3 separate regions of the Homo sapiens genome follow, and regions 2 and 3 are each linked to region 1. The links come from fine-mapping of genetic effects on gene expression. A gene starts in region 1. Each other region holds a variant in brackets. All regions are shown on one strand. Distances are between the middles of the regions.

Region 1 (8,190 bases):
TTTGTTGTTGTTGCTTACATTATTTTGAGAAGAAAAAGCAGAAAAAAGTAGAATTCCCCTCTGAATTATCTTGAAAGGAAGGCATACACACACACACTCCTGAAGAAGAGTTATGTTGATTTTTCTTCTGATTTTCTTAAAAAGCACAAGTTTGAGTATACTGTGTATTAGAATTTCACATATTAGTCAAAATGTTATGCATTATAATGTCTGTGCATTTAAAAAGTAAAATAGAAAGAGAAATGATATTGCTAATAGAGTGGGAAAAATTAGTCAAATTTATTATTTTCTGAAATAACTGTTTCCCTGACTAGCCAATCAACTTCCTTTAAACACTCAATATTTAATTCTCATGTTATATCAAGAAGTTTCAAAAGATATTATAGAGATGGATGTCAGCTACAGCCAGAAACATTTCTTTTGATTAAAAGTTTTGAAGATAAATGCATACAGAATATGATGACTGTTAAAGTGCTTTTTAATCATACCACATAATTAAAGATAGTTTTATTAAAACAACAAAAACTGAACATCGCAAACAATGCCATGAATCTCTGTGGAAAAGAAAGTCAAGTTTTATTTTCCTTTGCTTAAAATAATTGGAGAAAAGCAACTTTTACCTATACTTAAAAAAAAAGGGAGAAATAGTGCAATGACGAACTCTCCTGTGTATCTTATTATTATGGAAGTCCCATAATGTATATTCTATTATGTAAGTGTCTTTTATTCCCAGAGTATATGTAATTTTGAACAATTTAGAAACTCTGTACCTCTATCCAGTGCTCTTTTGAACAGTTTTCCAATTATTTGATTCCAAAGTTAATTATATTTATTTGCATGTTGAATGATTTTTTTATAATGTGTATTTCAAATGAATCTATAAGGGAATTGGAAAGGTACAGTTATTATCTATTAATAAACTCTTGCTGACCACACTTTTTCCTCCTCTTTTTAAAGAGCAGGGGTTGTTTTATTTTAGATATTACAGATGAATGGCTTTAAGTCTGTCATCAAAATACATTGTTTTTATATTCAGTGGGCACTGTATTATATATTTTATTCACTATTTGAATTTACACAAGGAACTGTAAATTCAACGCTAGGATTTAATGTTAAAGGTTGATGAGCTCTGAACTTTTTTAACAAACAAGAACAGAGCAGTTTTGCCCGAATTGCACAGAGCATCTGCTGTGTGTCCAGAGGACTTTTGGTCGTCATTCCCCAAATGGGCAATAACTGCGATTATGAGCGCTTCACAGTTTTTTTTTTTTTTTTTAATTCATCTGTACTCAATCCAACAGTGACCCACAGATATTTCCCTACACTTATTTCTTTGTGGTAAAATCCAATGAACAACTTTTCGTAATATCATTTTCAAAGCCATCTTGTAAAATATAACTAAAGAGGTTTCAGTGTTCTCTGTTACATCAGAATAAAGTTCTTCTGTTTTATTTCGAAGACTCCTTTTTTAAAAAATTCACAGAAAGGTCAAATCCATTCCAAATAGAAATCTCATTGCTTAGAAATATTTCTTAGGATCTCGAATCACTCTTTTTTTGTCTTTTAAATTCTGTCATCTGCCTAGATTTAACTGAAATAATTTTTATTTCTCAGTGTGTTAGCTAAAGGCATCCATTCAAAGGTAAGAACATCATAAAAGGTGAATGGAATTAATTTCAAAGTATATATTTGGCATTTTTAAAGAGCTGCATTTCAGCATCTGGAGAGCTGCAATTTAGGCTATCAAATCTACAACAGAGAAGCTGGGGGAAATGTGAACACCCTTATGAGGAGGGTCAGTCCTCAGCAAGTGCATTTTCGGTTCCAACCTTCAAAGGTAACATTTTCAGCTTGATGGGCTCCTGGTGGAATATATAATTTGCCTCTTTCATTCTTAGCTTCGTTGAAATATAGAAGACTGGATGTCTACCAGGCCAAAGTATAAACTCACCATTTATCTATTAAAGTCATATTTAATGAAAACGAAGAGAAATTATGACCCAATTCACTCTCTTTCTCATTACAATTCCTAAAGAACTTTGCCGGGCACATTATCTCGTAGACATCATGATCAAATGTTATTGTTTGCTTTATTATCTCAGTTGGATGGTTGGCTAGTCTAGAATGAAATAGGTTGAAGGCAATACTCTCAGCCTAGAAGTCTGAATGAGGTTCCCATTCAAATGATCCTGATTGTTTGCGGGTGGGGCGGGGTGATTAGTAAACCAACTGAGCTTACACTGCATAGTAAGCGTCTGGATGCCGCACATTTACATCTAACAAGAGACCCCAGAAAACGTGTGTGTGTTTCTTAAACCTTATGTTCCGAACAAAAGGCTATCTCAGCAACAGACAATCAGCACTGCATTGCTCCCTGGGATGCGAGCAACACACTCAACTGCACATTTCATTCTTCCTCGGCTCCCAGCACCACAAAGCCCCTACTCTCTTCCCACTCCTGGGTCCCCAGATTACTCCATAGAGGGGGGTTGGGAAGGCAGAAGCCTAACGTCTATGCCTGCGCACCAGCCGCCGACACCAGGGCCCCCCGGGCGCTGCTTTCTCCAGCCCGAGCCGCCTGGGGGAGGTAGGGAGGGGAGCCAGGGAGCGCGAGAGGGGACCGCACACCTAGACACTTAGGATTTTATTTATTCACAGGGAGGCGGGGGAGGGGAACTGGGCGAACGCGAATTTTCTCCCCGAAGTTGCCTCTTCTAAGCAGATCAAGTCGTTTTCTGGCTGGTGCTGGGGGCCCCGGGGAGGGTGCCGGTGAGGTCCAGGCTCTCGAGACCAGATCCCGTCCCGTGCGCAGAGGGGGTGGGGAAGGGCGGACGGGCCGCAGCTGTCGAGAGGGCCGGGAACCGGCAGGGAAGAGCCCGCGGGCCGGGGAGCAGCGCGGCTCTGTCCCGGGCCCTCCAACGCAGGCCGGGGAGCGCAGGGGCCGGCTGGTCACGCGTGGGAAAGAAAGCCCCCTTCCCCCTACGGCGCTGCTCCCCTTTCCCCAGGCTGGGCCGCCAGAGAGTGCGTGCAGGGAGAGCTGCGAGTCCCCGCGCGCGTAATCATGACCTCGGGGCCCCCTCCGGGCCGCGTGAGCGCATCGGCGAGGCTGGGCGGCCGCCGCGGCCCCGGCCGTGTAACATGACCCGAGCGGCCGGCCGGCCGGCGCGGCGCGGCCATTGAGCCCTCCCTGCCCATGAATCTCTGGCGCGTCTCTAGCTCGCTCGCCGGCTCGCCTCCCGCCTCCCTTTCTCCCCCTCCAGCTCCGCGGGCTCCGTGCGCCTCTCCCTCTCCCTCCTGGTCCTCCCGCTGCCCGTCTCTCTCCACTGCCCGCCTCTCGCCACTGCCTCCCGTCTTCTCTCCCTCACGGCAGCCTCCGTCTCTTTCTCCCTCTCTCCTTTGAAAACTGATCTTTGGCTCTTAGTGTGAAAGTGATTTGAATTTGGCTCTGCGGCGCTCTGCGCCTGCGCCCAGCCTCTGGCATGCTGGCTCCTTCCAAGCAGCTGTTTTGGGTTTGAAATTCCAACATGGCAGAGGCTGCAGTCCGTCTTCCCTTCAAAAACTTGGAATGATTTCAAATCATAGGCACCTTCACTTAACCCTAGCTTCCATTCATCAGCAAACACATCGGATCGATGCTACGCTAACCTATCGGGTTCTCTCTCCGCGCGTTCAGGTAAGAGGAGCTTCGTAGTTTTCTACCATCTGTTTAAATTTGTTTTTGTTTTATTTTTAAAGAATATAAATACATCCAAGACCTGTAATTAAAAGAGATCTTCAGTTGTGCCGTAAACATTAAATTCAATTTCCACTCGTTTCTATTCTGTACGCCAACCTGCTGTCTAATTTCTCTGTTCAAAGTAGCCCTGAAACATTATAATGCATATTTTTGCTGCTTAATCATTGTAACAATAGTATGGGATTAAGAGTTCGCGATTGCAAGAATCTCGCTTTTCGCTATATTGGGCTTACTTATTACTATCTTTTTACTTCAAAAATAAAAAAATAAGAAAGCGGAGCCATAGGGTGGGGCTAGACTTTCTTCGGGAACTAACTTCTAAGTAAATAAGAAGTGTAAATAAGAATCTTGCACACACACAAAAAGTTGAGGTTAAATTACAATCTCGTGGCTGGGGGAACGAGAAAATGTCAGAAGATCGGTTGCAGAAAAATGTAAGCACATCATCTAGGAGGGGGTACAGCGTGGTGGGCGTATTGTTGGCAAGGAACGGGAGAGAAAGATGTATAATTTAATGGTATATACAATCCACTGATCCTATTACCGTCCTCCCCGGAGCTCTTGTTAGTTTCAATGGGAGTGAGTGAAATTGACATGGACTTGCATTCCTGGTCATGTGCTTTTTTTCCTTTCTTTCTTCTCCTGTGATCTGAGATCCCCTTTTTGTTGATGTTGCTTTCCCCCTTAATTATATGCATGTAGGTTAAATGAATACCTGACGAAAGGGCCCACGTTTCAAGGCAGTGACATTTGATAGCTGAGAGGAAAAGTGGCTTTAATGAAAAGCAACCTTTGGAATTCCTGCTTGTGAGAAATCCAATTCAGCTTTTTGTGCTGCCAGCAAGAAATGATCAGTAGCACCAGTGTTTATGGTATGTCAGTTTTGGAATTTACTTCCTTTGCATCTAAATAGGAAAGACAAATGAAATAGCATGATAAAACCATTGAAGACTGCCTGGCAAGCAGTTGCTCATGATATAGAATTCCTTTTTTTAAAAAATATATGTTTAATGTCACCATGCTTTTTTTTCTTTTGCTATCACTTGTTTGTATATTGCAGTTTTGATTAATATATTACTTGAATCCACTTTTATCGGTTTTAGCTGTCATCCAGAAGTTGCACGTTACTAGTAATGCACTATATATATATAACTGCTGAAGTCAAATAGTATGTAAATTAGTTAAACTCAGTGTGGGTTTTTTTTTTTTTTTTTTTTGAAGGAGGGAGGCTGGGCAAAGGGGAGAGGGCAGGAGTGTTGGGAAAGATTACTAACTAATGAAAGTGTATCTATATATATGTACACACACAGGAACAGGACTGGATGAAAATTTTATTTTTCTCAATCTATTAATGCAGTTTGACTATCTGCTCTTGATGTTTGCACTTTGTGGAGTAATCAGTTCTTCTGAGTGTGGTTTTTTTTTGGGGGGGGCGGGTAAGTGAAGAGGTGTCTTTTACATGAAAATAAAAATTATATTTTGATTGTCCAAAGTCCTTGATGTCTTTTAAAGAGTAGGGATAGGTTTTTCTTCCCCCTTTCCATTCACTCGTCTGCCTGTCAGCGCTTTTTACTTTTAACTTGTGACAGAATTAAATAATCAGGCACTGAAATTGACTTCGTTTGAAATCGCTCTTTCCTTTCTTTACAAAAAAAAAAAGTCAGTTAAATGGAGTGAGAGGGGATTTTCAATAGCTCTTGTGGCAGTGCCCTGTGTACACTTTGTAATATTCAATTAAGACAGAGGGAACAACAACAACAAAAAGATGTTAAAGTATTTTGCATAACCAAAGGATATGTCCACTTTAGACTGTTTTTTTTTTTTTTTTTTTTGGTTGTTGCTATGTTTACCCCATGACCGTTAATTCCTCCTGAAAAGAGAGAAAGAAGGAAAGAGAGAATATGAAAAAAGAAATAACAGTGGGGCAAAGCTGCCAGGGGTCTGTAGTGTGGCCGTGGTCACTGCTCTCTCCTAACACAAATGTGAATACGAAGAGAGGAACTACAAGACCCGTTGCGCGACATACACGTCTGGTTGGACTCTGGTGACTATTGAGCTAAATACACACCACACTTACACGATAGGAAAGATTTGATTGAATTTTGCATTTGGAACTTGTTGACTTTGAAGCGATCAATAAGAAGACTGTTTATTTTAGATGCACATAATTTGCCCTGAGAAATGTTTTAAGGAGGAGAGAGCACAGCTTTTTTTCCCCCGGAGCTGTTGGAGCGAATGGGATTGCCAGATGGGCGATTTCCCTCTGTGATGTTAAAGCTGTAATATATATTCAGAGCAGATTGGGCTGCTGCCTGTGATGAGGAGGATATTACATTTATAAATTTTAAATCGGAGCTCGGACAATGTGCTGAGAGCAGAAATTGGATGGTTTGACTGTTCACCGTATTGATACTTAAATGTGATTTCTAGGTAGTACTAATAATAATCATTGCAATAATTCATGAAAAACATACTGGCATAGGCAATTATATAATTCATGACATTTAACAGCAGATTTGAGTGTGTAAATTGCCCCCCTCTTAAGTCTCTGCTTACTATTAAATAATAGTCACATAATTCATTTCCCTATGTTTAAATGTCCGATGTGCAAATGATGTTAACTTAGGAGCCTTGTTATCATATATTAGAATTCTAGGGGTGAAAGTTTACATACATATATATAAAGTAGACACTTGTGTATATGTATAAAGTGGCGTTACTGGCTCTTGTTTTCTAATTCTTTACTCTGATTATTTTTAGATTTTGTTTGTCTCAAATGTGCGGCCTAAAGGAACCAGAGCTACAAACCTAAAAGACTAGAAAGTGGGCAAGTGCTCACACTCTGGCAGCTCTGCTGTTGCAAATTAAAAGTGTGTTGTGGTCAGGAAATGAAAGCTACAATGTCTCTTTTGAACAAGTCGTTTATCAAGAGAAACATCTATCAGGGACTGCCTTGTCACATTGATCCTCTAAAAGTTAGGTCCGAGGTGGAAGCTGCTTTGATGTTTTTGATCCTAAATTTAATACAACAGAAAAAAAGCAAGGATATTTTGACCAGTATAGATTTTTAAAAATGTTTCCTGGAACCAACAAGATCTATTTATTAGGATTTCACTATGTGTGAAGTTTTCTGGACGTAACAGTTGAAAGGTTGAAGGGGAAATCCCAGACTTTATAAATTGATGATTGTTAGAATATACATTTATAATATATTTAGTGATGGCTGGCTTCTTGGTGCACATGGAATGGACGTTTTGAACACAGATTGTTCAAAAGGAAAATTATTTTGAAAGATTATTTTGGAAGAATATGTAGAGAGTCAAGAGTTTTTCATTCAAATTTTAGTTATCCTCTTCTGTTCTTCCTCTCTTTTACTCCTTCATGCTTGTTTCTTATCTTCATTATATTTGTGACAAATTAGCTTTTATTTGGAAAAGAAACATTATTTCTACAAAAACCATGTCCCAAAACATGCTTGTACACATCGTCTCTATTGTTTATTAATTGTGCATGTTTATGGTTATCAATATAAACTGCATGGACACATAAGTCCTTTGGAATTTCAGCTTAAAAATAGAGGTATCAGATTAAACATGCTATGTGTTCTTGAATAATGAATATGTTGTATGCATTATTTAAAATTGAAAAGGTATTGTTAGGAAAATGACCAAGTTGAAACAAAATTGTGAAAGCAGTTAGAAGCAGCCTGCTTCATTTTGGGAGGCAAAGATAGGAAAGAAGTGTTTCTTCTTTAAAATAGAGTTTTTGGATACTTGTCTTACACTGCTGGAGGCAACTTGTTATTTCATGTGGGTCTATCATCAAATAAGCAGGGAAGAGTAGGGTGGGAGTTTTGAGAAGTGTAATACTTGCTAATTAATCATGTCTGAAATGAAAGAATCATAGCAGGGTAATAAAGTCTCATTGTTGTTTTCCTGGAAGAGGGTAAGACTTCTGTTTGGAAGCTGTATGTGTGAGTTGATTTGCTTTTCTCTTCTCCTAAAAACACAGTTTATAGGGTCTCTTTGGAATTATTTCAAGAAACATCTTTTTTTTTTTTCTGAAAATAGAGTATTTTTCTTTCTCCTGGCTGTATTTCATCAGTAAGATTCTTAAAACAGTATCTGATATCTTCTGAGTGAAAATAGGGGGTTTTATTCTTTAGTTATATTTAAGACTCCTGTAGCTGAGTTTCCAGGGCTGATATTTTTTTCCTTCCCATAAATAGAAAATATTTTTTGTTTTTGTTTTTATTCATGTTAGGCAGGAACTTTGAAAACCTTTTTGTAGGTAGTTACTTCTGATAGATATACAAGAGTGCAGAAATTTCATTAATTACTTTTAGATGATAATATAAGAGTGTAACCAGAGAGAAGAAAATAGGTAGTATTTCCAAGAATCTATAGAGACCATCTGTATTATTACTTTGCATTTCTAAGATAGTTTAAGATATA
Region 2 (8,190 bases), 47 kb after region 1:
ACATTAATATCATATTGTTATATATTGTTGAGCTTGTTTTTAACACCTTACTTAGGAGCCTAGCTATAAAATAATTTTAACTATGAAAGGGACCAACACCTCCTACTGGTACTTCCAGTTAATCTCCTGGATGCTTCTAGAAAGACTGGCCCTATGCCTGCTTCTTACTGAATCATGTTCCTATGTATAATATTTTATCCAAATAAATGACAATACAAAATCCTTTTACTTAAACAAGTTTAGGACTATAAAATATTTCAATTCATATTTTAATTTTAATAATTTTGTTCATAGCTTTCAGTAATAAAGCAAAATGGAACATTTTATTTTTGTGAAGCTTATCATTGTTTGCTAAGACAGTAATGTTAGAAAAATAATCTTTTCCCTAGGCATAACAAAACAAATGTTTAAGATAGATTTGATTGAGCATTTAAAATTTTTAAAGATGAACTTGCTTCTGGGTCTTCACTTCTTGGAGAGAATCCTTGGGAAGAAACTTAAAAAGATTTGGATTTGTCTTTTCTTTGGACAGAACATTTTGTTCTTTATTCTAATTGCAAATTCCTCTGGCCCTGGTTATAGCACATATTTTCCTCTTTATTCCACAACTTCCACTCTGCTTTCTGTTTGTTTTTAATGCTCAGAAGGGTTAATTTTTGCCTCAATTCCTGAAAAGAGAAAGTTGATTGCCACTAATCCATTTTAGTGTAGGTAACATGAAATATTTGTTAACCAAATTAAATCTGGCTGAATTGAAGTGCATAACCACTCATGGAAGGATGCCACTCTCTGACTTACTGGTGTTAGTTTCTCTTGGATTAATTAACATGTTGTAAGATAGTCTAGGCATACTAAAGTCACTGTTTAAAATAGGTCACATCAAGTAGCAGAGTATGAAAATGTCCATCCTTATAAACCAGGGATGGCAAACTCAGGTGCCTCCTGGAACTAGATTGGTTAAAAATGAGTGAAGGAGGACAGGTAGCAAGATTGTTCCTCGTTTGTCACCATGAAGCATCAGCAGATTGTTGACTTGTGAAAATAAAGGCAGAGGGTTGCCATATTTTCTTTTCTTTATTTTCTTTTCAAGATACAGCAGATACCCCATTTTAATGTAATTGTATCAATTTTTTAAATTAGGCAACTAATCAAAGATTTTACAAACAGTGTGCAGTCTGTGTTTTGTACATAGGCTGTCAGTTTGTGACCTCTAGAAACCCCATCAATTTGAAAGATAAATTTAGTCTTATATTAAAAACAAAGTGCACAGTGTTCTTAATTCTGTGGTCAGTGGCCAACGGTCCATTTCCTTTGGGAAAAAGTTTATTTTTGAGTCCCATGATCCTCACTCTAAGCAAAAGACTGAAAGACTATTTGGGTTGATAATTTACCCAACAGCATATTGAAAAATGTTAAGTCGGAAGTCAGTTCCTCATACTGTCTGGTAAAATCTGCAGTGTTGGTGTGGACTAAATCTATAGTTTAAAAAATGTTTTATAGTTTAAAAAATCATGAGAAGGCCTGTTAGGTAAGAATGCCCCCCACCCCAACACACACACACAAATTCCAATGACTTTAAAATTACAAAATTACATTTTTGGTATATCTCTATCTTAGCAACACTGTATTCTTTTCCATCTCTTTAAAATGTGCCACAATTAAATACACATAAAATAATCTTTTATATATTTATATATACTTGAGCCACCTTTCAACTTTTACTTCTCTAGATTACATAATTCAGACTTCTTTAATATTTACATATATCCTGTTTTATATATTTTTAAATGTGTTCTGTACTGTTGCCTAGACTAGACTGGTATTGTTAATAATCATACTAAATGCCAATGCATTATATAACTGCTTTATTACATCTTATATATTGTGTGTATTTATCTAGATTAGATTGCTTTTTACAAATGGTTCTATCCCAAAACAGCATTAGTTTTTGATTCTCACCCAGCTCTACGGCTTTTTGACACATTTGTTTCTGCTGCTGGAGATTGCTAGTCCATTGTGTTATTTCCCCATAAATGTATAAATGTATACCGATACTTTATTTGATTTTTAAATTTATATTGAAGATATAACCTATTGTTTTGAACTACAATTATGTCCATTCCTGAGTTAGCCACACCAGCTATCCCTGGTGTCATGTCCTGTTTGAAATTAAGTATCATGTGTTTTTCTTTATTGAAGGCAGTTAGCTCGAGTGTTTAAGAAATACTGGCCTCATCCTTGGGGAACACTGTAGTAGGCTTCCTTGACATTGAATCATTGGTAACTGTTCTTTCATAGGCCCAATTTGACCATCTGATTTATGTTGTATGTATCTTAACAATTGAGGGGGACTGACATAACTGGAAGAAAAGTGCACATATTTTAATGTTGGCATCACCCAAAACAAGGACATCTTTAGCTGCTAGATTGAAATTATTTACAATTTTGCACTTACTTTATGGTACCAAGTACAAGTATTCTAGTTACACTTGTGGTTTTAGAGAGTATTTGCTGCTCATTTGGAGTCTCAAATGCAAAATATAACCCTGTAGCTATTATGTGGGTTTGCGACACTCCCATGGGGACCTTGGGCTCATAAACCAGCGAATGGATTATATAATGCTGCATAAATGCTGTATTTTTCATCTGACAGACATAATCTTGATCCTATATTTTTATGTTGCCTAACTGCTTCAGAATACCACTTTTGAAGCAACCCATCAAAATGGAAATTGCTTCTAAAACATGTAGCAATAAATATTGGTCAAGGCTCTGTGTAATTCAGATTGACTCAATACTTGAACACTACTCGATTGAAATTCTCTACTGTTTTTAAATAAAAGGTTGATAATTTCCATTTTATGGTATTGTTTGATCCTTTTCTTTGTTAGGCATATATTTACTTTGTTAAAATTAAAATTTTATTTTCTGATTGTCTAAGGCATGCCTGATAGTCAATCAAGCATTTCAGTAGGTATAGATAAAATATTGAGAACTTACATTGAAAGTTAAACCACATATGGATCAAGACATATATGTGATATAGATCAACAAATATATGTGGTACCTATGAAACCAGATGAGCATCACTTTCAAACTTGCAGTATAGAGCTCTGTGTCTAACATGTTATCTGAAAGACTTGATGCCAGAGCTATGATTTTGCTCCAGCCTCTCATAATCTCACTCTCTCTCTGTGTGTGTTTCTGTGTGTGTGTGTGTGTGTGTGTTCATTTTTGTTTTTGAGATAAGGTCTCAATCCATCATCCAGGCTGGAGTGCAGTGGTACAATCATGGCTCACTGCAGCCTCGATCTCCTAGGCTTAAGTGTTGCACCCACCTCAACCTACCAACTAGCTAGGACTACAGGTGTGTGCCACCACACCTGCTAATTTTGTATTTTTTCAAGAGATAGGGTTTTGAACTGGCTGGTCTTGAACTCCTGGGCTCAAGGGATCTGCTGGCTTTGGCTTTGCAAAGTGGTGGGATTACAGGCATGAGCCACTGCACCCAGCCTCATTGTTGTATATTATCCGATGTGCTATTTGCTTTACAAATAATTGTTATACTCTGCTTGTCCTTTACCGAAAACATGACCAAAAACTATCTGATATTTACTATCCAATTTTGTTGAATAAAAGAGGAATCCAGAGTTGTTAACTTTGGCTTTAGGTTCTCCCTCTTGCGACCAACTTTGAATTATCTGGGCTGGGTAGTCCACAAACAATGTGTTCATGTTGTCTCCCTCTTACTCACAAGCCTTCTGTAGCTCCCAACATTCACTGCATGAAGTTTAAACTCCTCTTCTAAAACTATGATAACCTGGTCTCATCTTCCATCTAAACAGCGATTTCTTTTTAACTTTCACATAGATATACTGTACACACATTTCTCGATTTTTGCCTTTGTCTATTCATTCCAGTCTGTCATTTTCTAGTGCCAATATTAAGGATCATTTTATGATCTTACATGTAACTGTTTTAGACTGCTGATCTCCTTCACTTCTAATCTTTTCCACCACTTTATCTGTAACATTCAATATAGCTCTCAATTAGATTATGTCTTCATTTTGTTTGCTATTTTATAATGTGATTGTCAGACCTAGGACCATGTCTTCAATTCCTGAGTTCCCACATTCTGAGCACACGATAGG[T/A]CTCATTGGATACTCATTTCACTGGTGATGGATCTCCTGGCTCTTTTACACAGAGTATCTTTTATAAGCAGGCATTGCCATAAAGACATTAGTTTTAAAATTCTTCACTTCAGTAAAGAGTGAATGCCGTATATATACATGTATCTTCTTTGTGAGGTGAATTGTGTGCTTTGGTATTTTCTGGCAAGTTTTGTCAATGGAGACTAGTAAAATAAATCCTTAGAGATTTACTGAACATTTATTTTGTGACGTATAGTTGACGTGTAATACAGTTTTTACTGAGAGTTAATACCTCACTTTGTAAAGCATCTGTATACTAACTCCTGGCTTAACTGTCAGGGATGATGCCTTTTTGTGGTCCTTTGTTTAGGAATGTTGGTCTTTGTGACCCAAGATATGTGAGGACATTCATTCTTGATTTAACTTTGCATGTTACTGTTCATTTTTATTTCTACTTTGAAAAACAGGAATTTTACTAAAAACAGATTATGAAAAATGAATTAGCATTAGGATAAAAAATATATACTTTAAAATTTAAGTTTGCATTGTTAGTTGCCATGCAAAACATCTTGTTCCCTAGGTAAACGTGTACTTAATCAAATGGCAAGTAGAATAAAATGTAAACTAATTGCCTCTGTGACTAAATTCTCTATTCTTGACTGTCTTCCTCAAGAGTAATTCTTTCATGTGAAGTCAGTTGACCAGTCTCAGTTACCTCATTTTGGAGTGAAGTCTAGTACTCTGAAAAGGGAAAGATAAATTATTCTTTGGGGAGCAATGCAGTTTACTAAGCTGTGTATGAGGCCTGAGGTCAGGTGACCCGACTCTGTTCAAATTGTCAAAGGCAAGTGTCAATTGACAGTGTGTTCTGCTCTCTAAACTAGCACTCAAAGCCTAGTGGTTGAGCTTTCTGTTACCATTTCTTCTCCACTGCTCTGGAGAAAGGTTTTGTTTGTCTTGCTGGCTACTGCTAGTACCCATTTAAAAAGTTTAGACACAATTCCTTCAATATTATATCTAGAAAAATCTAGGGTGGTCTTGGAGGGCACAGGAGAAGAAGTTAGTGATCCCCTGACACAGTTTTATGGCTTTGAATACCATTCTGTTTCTTTTCTCCTCTAACTCTTCCAAATGCCTCTGAGAATCATGATATGAACTTTATCATTTTGATAATACCAAAAGAGATGTCTCTGGAAGCATGTAGCTGTGCATGTATGTGTGTGTGTGTGTGTGTGTGTACACAATCTCACACATACATCATAATATAAAATGTGTTAATATTAAGTAATGACTGATTATTTTAAATAATAACACTCTTTACAAATACATACGTCTTCTGCCCTTCAAAGCACACTTGGCCTCCTGCTTGGAAAGTGCTTTCTGTCTAATAGCACTTTCTTCTGATCATCTTTAATTTTGGCAACACTTATCACTTTAAAAAGAATATATATATATGTGTGTGTGTGTGTGTGTATGTGTATATATATATATACACATACATACATAAACACAGGTATATGATTTGGGAAAATAGCTAAATGTCACTGGGAGCCAGGCCTAGTAAATGAGATACTGTTAGAATTGATTCAATAAAATTGATAATATTTGGTCTCAAAACCAAATTGTAAGTATAAAATAAAACTAGTGTGCTTGTGTGTTCCTAACTAGGACTATATGTGTAATGTGATAATCTACATAAGGCAGTTTCGCCCACACTTCTCACTTCTTTACCGTTCCCAACTCTGCTTTATATAGCAATGAAACTTCAGGTATGTTGTTGCACTGCTCATCAAAGTACCACTTTTAGAAGATTGTACTTGAAGAGTTTTTAAATAGCACTAGAAAGACTCTGCCATGCCACAGAAAAGCTTTTCGCCACATTAAGTGTACATTTAATCAACATTATGGCAATTATAGCTCTACTAGAAGTCCTTCACCCTCTGTTTTGTGGCGAGAACTTTGTCTAGGATAAAACTGTCATGAGTAGAGGTAATTTAAAATTCATCCTCCTTTTATTTATGTCAGAATATGACAGGGTGGGATGATGGATACCCATCTTTTTCTAATTGTAGCAATCTATTCTAAACTTCAAAGATAACTTGTTAGAATTCTCATTATTTAAAAAAATGTTATGACACCATTTCTCAGTCATTGCTTTTGTACTATTTCAATAATCTCCTTGGATATACTGATTGAGAAACTGTTATAAGGCTTACTGCGAAATTGACGAAGTCCAAATTTGATGACTGTCCCAAATAGTTTTGTGCCTTTGATAGATTTTACATGTGTTTTTTTCTATAAATCTGCCTTTAAAAATTTATTGTTGTCTTCAGATGTTTTCATGATATGTTCACTTAGTAGTTTATGCCACATGTCTTTAATGCAGTTCTAGAAACCCATTGCTGAGAAAGTGAAGTTCTCTTTCAATATCCATAATGAAAGTCAGTTTACTGGCGAGCACACCTGGGTTTGGCTTCCTAGTTATTCCTCCAGTAACACTGTATTGCATGTCTTAGGAAAAACTATTTGATGAGCTTAGATTTACAAATTAAAGTATTCTTCCACTTACTTCAGATAACGATACTGCAAGATCGTTAATATTGACCTAGAAGAAGTCTGGCTCAGCCTTCTGATTGATGAGCTGTGGTGGCTGTGAATGCTAACATAACCTTAATCTAAAATCATGAGCCTCTACCAAGGGAGGTAGTAGTTCCTCTGAATGCTACACAGATCATGTCACTTTTGAAGTCATGGTTTTTGTCTTGGACTGCCTATGCCCTAAGGGGAACACGGCCAAACATGTATTTATCTAGAAGATGTCAGAAAAAGTGATTGATCTGAAAAACTTCTGTCTGAGAGATTATTAAAGTAACTTGGAAAGTTGTTTTGGAAATAGGAAGAAAGACCCCAAGGAAGATATTTTCACAGTTTTTCTTTATCTGAAGAGCTGTTGCCAACTCATCACAAAAGGGTAGAACAAGGAGTACAGATTAATTTGAAAAATATTTCTGATTCTGAATTCAAAGTCTAATTGTAAAAAAGAAGATAGCAATGAGAGAGTATAGTCCCATACCTAGCTAAGTAAATGAAACTGTTAGGTGTTTATGGAATAGGAAATATGACTCTTCTAGTCATCATGGACCCAACCTTAAAGAAAGTTACAGTTCACTGGGTGCGGTAGCTCACGCCTATAATCCCAGCACTTTGGGAGGCTGAAGCGGGTGAATCACGAGGTCAGTAGCTCGAGACCAGCCTGGCCAACATGGTAAAACCTTGTCTCTACTAAAAATACAAAAAAAAAAAAAAAAAAATAGCCAGGCATGGTGGCTCCCGCCTTAATCCCAGCTACTCGGGAGGCTGAGGCAGGAGAATTGCTTGAACCTGGGAGGCGGAGGTTGCAGTGAGCCGAGATCACGCCAGTGCACTCCAGCCTGGGCAACAAGAGCAAGATTCCGTCTCAGAAAGAAGAAGAAAAAAAGGAAACTGACAGTTCAATAATGAAAATACGCATTTTCATAGCTCTAATAAAAGTAGAAAAGAATGTTTTTAACTAGATTTTACTGATAAAGCCCTGTGGTTCATAGAGGAGAAAGTGATCACTTTGAGTGATAAACATCTACCTCTCCCTCTGAAAGCCTAAAGTGGGGACATGTACCTGAAAACTAGATTGTGTGCTTGAAAGAGAATGTAGACAACCAAGCTAGGGAAGAAAAGACCTGAGACCTAATGGGTTAAATTCTATCCTTGGGACTTGGACGTGTTACCTGACTTCTGGGTCTCCATTTCCTCATCCAGGAATACAAAATTAGACTATCTGTTATGATCAAATAATAGAACTATTGTTAGAATCCAGCTTGATAATATTTGTAGAGGATTTTAAAAATGCAAAAAGGCTATGCAAATATTAGGGACTGCTGTGACTTAAAATTTCATCTAGCTTGCTTTTGCTATGTTTAGGCAGAGTAAAGGCTGAACTTCTCTTGACTTTTTGTAGTACCTTTATAGAGACTAAATAGTATTTCAAGATAGGAATGACTGA
Region 3 (8,190 bases), 270 kb before region 1:
GGGGAAAGGCCCATGGCGTCAGTCTAGGCACAGCTCTCACAAACGAAAATTCTTTGTTATGAATCGCTCCTCAGAAAATAGCTCTATCGTAACCAGAGAAGTGAAGGACACAGAGTAACTTTGTACTGAGGCAGGGAGGTTAAAGGCAGTGACCATGTGAAAGAATTTCAGAGGGATTTGATTCTTCTTTTATTATTTTATTTATTTATTTATTTTAGGTGCCTTTAGCTAAAGCCTATTTGTACCAGATAGAATAACTGTACAGTACCAGCTGAACTATTTAGGATACATTCATTCTAGCATTTCAAAATGGTAGACTTTCTGAATTAGTTCTCCTAGAACTACTGATGGGGTGTGTACAGAACATATAGAGAATGTGAGAATATAGCAGTAGGGAATGTACAAAGATCCAGGAGCACCTTTTAAAGCAAAATTCATCTATTATACTAGTATATGAATATATATCATACCTTTCCCTAGTCTGTTGAGACAGAAGTTAGAGCTCATAATCATCCAAAATTTAAAATATTAAAAATAAGTTTTTACAATTTTATGAATTGTGTGATTAAGAAACGTGGGTGATAGCTAATTATGCCTTACAAGTATGGTAGCTTTATATCATTTATACATATCCCTAATAACTATTTGATCACTTAGCAGATTCTGCTACTAGGCATATTAATCGGTGGCACATTTAGTAAAAAAGATCTTTGTTAAGTAGTGTGGCTGAATATGATAGTTATTTTACCAATTTCTTTTTCTCTTTTTAGAACGTGAAGTTAGTGTGACAATCCCACAATAAAACCCACTCTCTTGAAATTTGATCATTTACTTTGAAGTGATATTCAGCAATTAAATTTTGTATTTCTTTCAATGTTCGTTATGAAAATTGATGTCAATTTTCTGTCTCCTCACCAATTGAAAATAGCTTCTGCATATTATGTCATCTAGTCCATCTGTGATATATAAGGCGTGCCTAGGTAGGATATTTATTAATTTCATTTTAGATTGATTATTTTCATGTCATTTTCATGTGGGCACTTAGGAAGCAAGGGATGAATGAATACAATGCCACTAAGTCAATTTATAGTATCATGAGCAATTCCAGTAATAACTGTAGAGGTCATAAAAAGAGAAAAACAATAAGAGCTAGGGAAAAGCTATCTACAAATCTTTAGCTAAGAGACAACTATTTTGTGTTCTTTTGTTGTTGTTGTTAAATAATATCCTTAGGCATTTGTTTCTCATAATTAAGCAGCAAATGCTGTATTTTACATGGAGATACACTGGTATCTGTGAAGAGAACAGATTAATGTAATGTTTTGCTACCTTTGACCTTGTATCCTTGAGTCTCTTGATTCTATGTCACCAAACATAGCACTGTAATAGAGTTGAGGTCCAGCTAATAGTGTGTGCTATTCTGACTGTCATGCTCCATCATTGTAACTTACTGCATGAGGTCCCCAATGTAGCCTCGTGTGCACATGTACACATGCACGCACATGAGCGCATGCACCCACACACAGAAAATTCCCACTGACAGAAAAAAAAAGTAATCAGAGAATGCTTTTAAATACAGATTTTTCATTCAACTCATAAACAAAAAAATCATCTTGTTCAAGGTCTGTGTTCTAAAATGTTGTGATTCAGAATGCATTTAAATCCACCTCTCTTATAAAGTTTATTAGAAGGAGATAATCACAAAACATCCAAGCTCTTTTTTTTTTTTTTTTTGCATTATCCCATTATGGCAAAGTGTTATCAATTTACATTTCAATTTTCAACCTATTAACGTTAAGCTTCATAAAGTGAGAAAGTACTCTATGATGTTTTTGTTTCTTGACATCGTTTCTTCTTAGATGATTGGTTTAAAAACAACTTGAAAATATATTAAATTGTTTATAAGTTAAATGTATTAAATAAATTATTCTTTTATTATCTACTTCCATGTTTCCATATATATATATATATATATATATATATATATTACACTAGTAGGAAAACTGTGTGAGTTTCAAGCAGCTGAGCATTGCCCCAAAGCTATTATCCAACATTTCAAAATTTAAGAAGGGATTAAGATTCCTTATGAATGCTGCAGTTTTCTAGTGAATCTTGAAAACATAAATGAAGAGGCAGCTGTAACTGTTTCTAAGTGAAAGGAATACTCAAGAAGTATGTTTGATTTTAAACAGCCAATCCCAAGCCCATTATGAGATTTTAAGCTCCCATCCTCTGCTCCTTCTCTTATTCTCTCATATCTTCCTTCTTCCTCCTCTCCCTTTCTTTCCTTTCTTCCAGTTCTCCATTCTCCATCCTCATTTTAGGTGGCTAGTCCACTGGACTTTAAAAAGCAATTTCCTTTATCTGGAAATAGCACTTTCTTTTTCCAAATTCACTTGAATATAGCTCTTCAACCACATCATGTCAATCCCAAATATTATCCCAGTGACTGCGTCTGATAGGTCCAAAATAGTTTGTAAAATGAGGAATAAAAAATCATAATCAGATAAACACTGGTTATAATTTAATCTGTTTTTAAAGCATCATGGAGGGTTCATTTTTGTGAAGAAAAATAAGAATAGTTACAACTTTTGTTACTTCATGTATATGCATATGTATATGTATATATAAAATTAGCTGCACAAGCAACTTGGAAAGTTTTCTTATCTCACTCTACCAATTAATTAAACCAAATATTAGGTAGAAATAAGAATAGCCATTTGGAGAAATGTCTTTGTGTATACATTATATAGAGATAGAAGTTACTTTCAGCGAGTAACTGCATGTCAGTACTAAATTGCATTTTATACAACTTAAAATTATTTTTCTATATTTTTCCACTTGAAATTTTACTGAAATTTCAAATCAAAGGCACAATGTTTATATCCACAAAATGAATAGTAAGGATAAAGCTTAATTTTTAAAATCTAGAAACAAGAATATCCTGTTAATGAACACCAAAGTAAAAATAGGTTAGATGTTCTTCCTAATATGGCCGACACTGATACATATGAAGCCATCTTACAGATCGATATATATGTAAACAGGATACC[A/G]GATCCCAAGTGCAATTAGAACATCAGATTGAAAATTCTTTATTCTACAATTAAAGCACAGGCTTAAAAGGAAAAACAGCACATTTCCAATTAAATCAACTAAGTACAAGTTAGTTACTACCAAGTCCCATTTCTAAAATAGTAGCTTTTGTTGGCACGCTTTAGGAAGTAAATATTTACCCAGAGAAATGTAATTTCCTTTTCATTTATTTAGAAACTGCATGAGCTGGTCTCCGCTTTCTAATTTTCTTTGTACTAGTTAAGGTACTACAGAGATTTCTCATTTTGATATTAGAATTGTGTAGTTGAACTTGTGTATATTTGAAAGGGAAAGACAACATTTTCTTTCCCTTCTTAATTAGTAACTTTCTTTTTTACTTCCACTATGCTTTTAGTAATTAAAAAATAAACCTTGATATAACATTGATGTTGTTTGCAAAGTTATTTTGAAAAACATCTGCTGATGAGAAGCATGCAAAAAAAAAACTTTCATGCCGGTAAATGTGATTGCTAATAATTTCATCATGATTGCTATGACTGCAATTTATTTATTCTTAATTTATTTTTATAATGAACTGCTTCAGTAATATGACAAATGATTCCATTAGTTAAAAAACTAAAATGTCAATTTACATGTGGTCTTTGGTGACTAATTTGCTGAGTTGAGGTTTTGGTTTTCATTATGATAATATTTGGCTATGCTCTATGAGCAAAATTTATGAGGTCTTAAATATTAATCTTTTGATTTTCTGAAACAAGGTAATTTTCAGCTTTAAAAATGTTAGCAGTTTCCCTTTCAGGGTCTTGAATACACAAGTTTTAGGCACAAACTTCTGAAACGTTGTCATCTAAAAAATAATGCTCACTTTGTTCCCTGGGATCAAAACAATTCTTTTCCACTAATGACTGCAAATATCAGCTCATTTCTAACACAGTTTCCAATGGCAAACATTACTCAGTTGTCAGTAAAAGAAAAGGGATTACATCAGCATTCGGGGGAAAAAATGTTCTGTTCCTTCTTACTCCATAGTCTATGTTCAATCAGCCTGGAGCTAATGGAAGCCCTCCAGTGCTGAGAAATAAACAAACACAGTTGGGCAAATAGTCCAAAATCAAATCTAGTATATAAGGTGGACAATACATAGTTAGTTCCATTACCGAATCCTCCCCTGGGAGCTGGAGCAGCTTCAGAGCCCTTCTCATTACACACCAGCACCATCTGTAGCCAGCCTGAACCTGATTTGGGAATGTATAAAGTACACGAAAAAAAATAGACTCAGAATCGGGAGCTAGAGAATCCTATTTCAAGTTTAAATTTTGCTTGTGAGAGATCATTTGGTTTTAGACTCAGCAAACAGCGGGCCTCATCACTCACAATGAGGGACGCATGTAGCAAGGATTACTTCAGATCAGGGAGATTGAAGGTAATTGCTACTTTCCACAGGGATATATCTAGCTCAAGTATAGCTCAAGAGAGTTACAGCATGGTCCCATTAGCCACAGAGCTTCTATTCCACTTCAAAAGGCAAGCACCCTTTCCCCGTATTGCTGTTGCTGTTGTTGATATTATGCATTATTGAATTTAAAATTGTAGATGGAAACGAAGCCAATGGCAATGGCATTTTTAAAATATAAACATTGTGTGTGTTTGTGTGTGTGTGTGAATTTTAGGCTCTGCCTCAAAAATAGAACCAGAAGTTTTTATTTACTAAAAATAAAATGTAAATTATTATTCATAGAAAGTGATGATGTTGGTTACATCTGTTTGGGGGCTAAATAAATGAGCACATGATTATCAATGCTGAAATATATGGTGATATTATGTGCAGTACTTGAATATTTTCATCCAAGATATGCCACCTTCCAGCAGGCAGAAGTTGCTTTACCAATGCTACCTACTTTCCCTTTTATTCTCCTTCTCCCTCCATTCCCCAACCAACCCCTGCCTTCATCCAGTAACAAAATGTCTCTGGAAATCTGATTTCCTTCCTCCGTTTGAATCACATTCATACAGAAATGAAAATGGTTGTATGTGTCTTTTGAATGCCCTGAAAAGTCCGAATGTATATGTGAGTGTGTAATTCAGGGAGAGAGCACTGCATACAAGTATCTAGAGATTCATAGGCAGGGTAGATCACTTTCACTGGAGAGGACCAAAGAAAGCACTTTGGACAGTGCCTGCTTCCTGCTCAAGCAGAGACTGCCCTTACGCAATCTGAGCTCCAAAAGAAATAACTACCCCTTAACCTAGATAAATCCCTATTCCCCAAACTGAATCTCCCTCGTCCCTCCTTACACTACAGATGGGAACCATTCACCATTAGTAAGCCCTTTCCCTACTCTAGCACTCACCTGTCCGAAGGTGTTTCCAATCTTGTCAAATTTCAGATCCTTTCATTGATGCTATGTGGCTGCAGGGGTGTTCATTGTGCTCCCTTCTGGTTTGGTTTGGGTGATAAGACTTTAGGCATGACCTGGCAGTATCCTCAGGTGGCATCCTTACACTCTGGAGTAATAAGCTGAATCTCAGACACTATCAACAAATATTTATGTATTTTTTTTCCAATCCATCCTCACATTCTGAGTTACGTCAGTTTGCTGTAGGCAATATTTTTCACTGGTCAAAGATACTATTACTGATGTTGGTCTCCCATCTTTATCCTGTGAGATGGATCTCTGGGACAAATCCTTCGTCTTTAAAACTGCGTTTTCATGTTCTTGAGCTTGTCTGAAGAAAGTCAATAACCCTTCAGAACACTCTTGAGACTTTAATTCACTTCCGTTTTCATCCTCAAGTCTTATTTAATAAATCTCCATCATCCTAGATTCTGGTGCTCACTTTTTGGGGGATTATTTAGGATGTGAACTCTGGAGTAAGATGGATCTGGAATTAAATCTTACTTCCAAATTTGATTGTGGACTTGTATAAATTATTTAATCTTTCTAAATCTGGCCAGTGCAGTGGCTCACACCTATAACCCCCCTATAATCCCAGCATTTTGGGAGGCTGAGGTGGGTGGATCACTTGAGGTCAGGAGTTCGAGACCAGTCTGGTCAACATGATGAAACCCTGTCTCTACTAAAAATACAAAAATTTTCCAGGTATTGTGGAGTGCGCCTGTAATTCCAGCTACTAGGCAGGCTAAAGCAGGAGAATCGCTTGAACCTGGGAGTCAGGGGTTGCAGTGAGCCAGGATCGCACCACTGCACTCCATCCAGCCTGGGCAACAGAGCAAGACTCCGTCTCAAAAAAAAAAAAAAGTATTTAATTTCTCTAAATCTCTGTTTTCTCAACTAAAAAATTAGGATAATAATGGCATTTGTATTATAAGTTTATTGAGAATATCGAATGAGTTAATTTATGAAAAGATCTTTGTCAAGTTAGTACATAATGAATGCTATCATTATTACTTAATAGTAATAATAATCTAAATCTCTACTCCAATTTGTCCCTTGCTCAAGATTTTGTCCAGTGGTTTCTGATCCTAGGTCATACCCACCAAGTTCTAAGAGCTCATCATACCTAAAACAATGTGCCTGAGTATCTTCTTAAAAAAAGAAAATAGCTACCGTTTACTGAGTAGTTCCTATTGCCAATAGTGAGCTAAGAGCTAAGTACACTATAGACAAATCGCATTTAATTCTTGTAACAAATATACAAAGTATGAATTACTGTTTTTTGTTTTTGTTTTGAGATGGAGTCTCACCCTGTCACCTGGGTTGGAGTGCAGTGGCACGATCTTGGCTCACTGCAACCTCCGCCTCCCGGGTTCAAGCAATTCTCCTGTCTTAGCCTCCCGAGTAGCTGGGATTACAGTTAGGCACCACCACACCTGGCTAATTTTTGTATTTTTAGTAGAGATGAGGTTTCGCCATGTTGGCCAGGCTGGTCTTGAACTCCTTACCTCAGGTGATCTGCCCCCCTCGGCCTCCCGAACTGCTGGAATTAAAGGCATGAGCCACCACACCTGGCCAAATTACTGTTTCATAAAAGAGGAAACAAGCTCAAAAAGGTTAAATGATATGTTCAAGTTCACAAGAAGTAACTGTCAATGTTGAGACCTAAACCTACAGTTTTCTGTGGCAGAGATCACCAAAAATATAACACCACCCATTTCCTCTTCTGGACACACAGAGCATATTTTCCAGCCTCCTTTGTAGTTGGACATCTCCAGTAACTGCATTCTAGCCAATGCAATGTGAGTCAGTGATGTGTGTATCTTAGATGCCCAGCCTCGTATAACTTCCCATTCAAAATCCTCCAGGCTTTTTTCCCCCTTCTGCCAGCTGGATGCCAATGTGCATGAAGAAAATGGCAATATTCATCAACCTGGATCCCTGAATAACTGCATAGACTAGAGCACATCTCCCTACTCATTCACTTTGCCAGTTGATCTGGAACGAACTCATTCTCTCTGTGTTTGAGACATATGCATTTAATTTTTTAATCATAGTCTGATATTACTCTAACTAATATAGTATGCAACTTCAAAGTATTCTATCTCTATTTTTGTATTGCACTGACATAAGAATTAGCCAGAAAAATGTTACAATATTCAGAGTCACACAGGAACTTTAGAAATTTTTCTCAGGTATGTTGTCACAACTTTGGAATAAAGGTATCTAAGCTTTAATTAATTATTTCAAAGTATTATAAAATGAATACCATTAACTAGACAATTATAAATTTTAAAAGTTTACTTTTAACATTTTCCAATTATCCAAAATGGTAAAAAAAAATAGGTAGGGTAACTTTAATCATGGTATTCAATTCTTTATGAATTGTCTTTAAAAGGTTCATAAAAATTATCCATTATATTCATGATTTTGTATCTCTACATAATTGACTCATTTTTGAACTAAATTAAATCTTGTTATCCCACACAGAGTCAATAAAAGTAACACTTTTATTTCATAATTCAGCACTTTTCAAAATACACATTTTAACCTACAATAATCTAAATTTAAGATTCAGTGCCATGAGAGGAGTTAGAATAATACATAATCAAGATAAAGTATTTTACAATCAAGCAGTTCTATCTTTATGTCTTGTCTTCCACATTTATAAACCATGTGACTTTGAGGTACTTAAAATCTCTTGGCTTTATTTTTCTCATTTGTAAAATAGGAATAATAA

Direction of the effects. Positions count from the first base shown, and alleles are read on the strand shown. Sizes are in standard deviations (SD) of each study's normalised expression. Not every link is listed here.
With allele A in place of G in region 3, the expression in cerebellar hemisphere of the gene that starts at base 3,503 in region 1 is lower (small effect, 0.23 SD a copy in GTEx).

The links. PIP is the estimated chance that this variant, and not a neighbour inherited with it, causes the effect. A credible set is the group of variants that fine-mapping cannot tell apart.
Region 2: its variant is the best candidate, but not a certain one, in a credible set for the expression of FIGN in tibial artery (GTEx, PIP 0.58).
Region 3: its variant is the best candidate, but not a certain one, in a credible set for the expression of FIGN in cerebellar hemisphere (GTEx, PIP 0.54).

The regions. Positions count from the first base shown.
Region 1 is chr2:163,731,321-163,739,510 of GRCh38, reverse strand. It overlaps FIGN (fidgetin, microtubule severing factor), which reads left to right and starts at 3,503. Exons shown (of 3, transcript NM_018086.4): 1 at 3,503-3,673; 2 at 4,439-4,608. The coding sequence starts at 4,584. It overlaps LOC107985957 (a long non-coding RNA gene), which reads left to right and starts at 5,570. Exons shown (of 2, transcript XR_001739759.2): 1 at 5,570-8,190. RefSeq lists enhancers at 1,864-2,379, 2,380-2,896.
Region 2 is chr2:163,684,212-163,692,401 of GRCh38, reverse strand. The region is part of intron 2 of FIGN (fidgetin, microtubule severing factor); the gene reads left to right. LOC107985957 (a long non-coding RNA gene) reads left to right here. Exons shown (of 2, transcript XR_001739759.2): 2 at 1-8,190. Among named protein-coding and RNA genes, the nearest start is that of FIGN, 48 kb to the left of the region's middle. The variant T/A (reference allele first, on the strand shown) is at 4,152.
Region 3 is chr2:164,006,017-164,014,206 of GRCh38, reverse strand. No RefSeq gene overlaps it. Among named protein-coding and RNA genes, the nearest start is that of FIGN, 270 kb to the right of the region's middle. The variant A/G (reference allele first, on the strand shown) is at 3,054.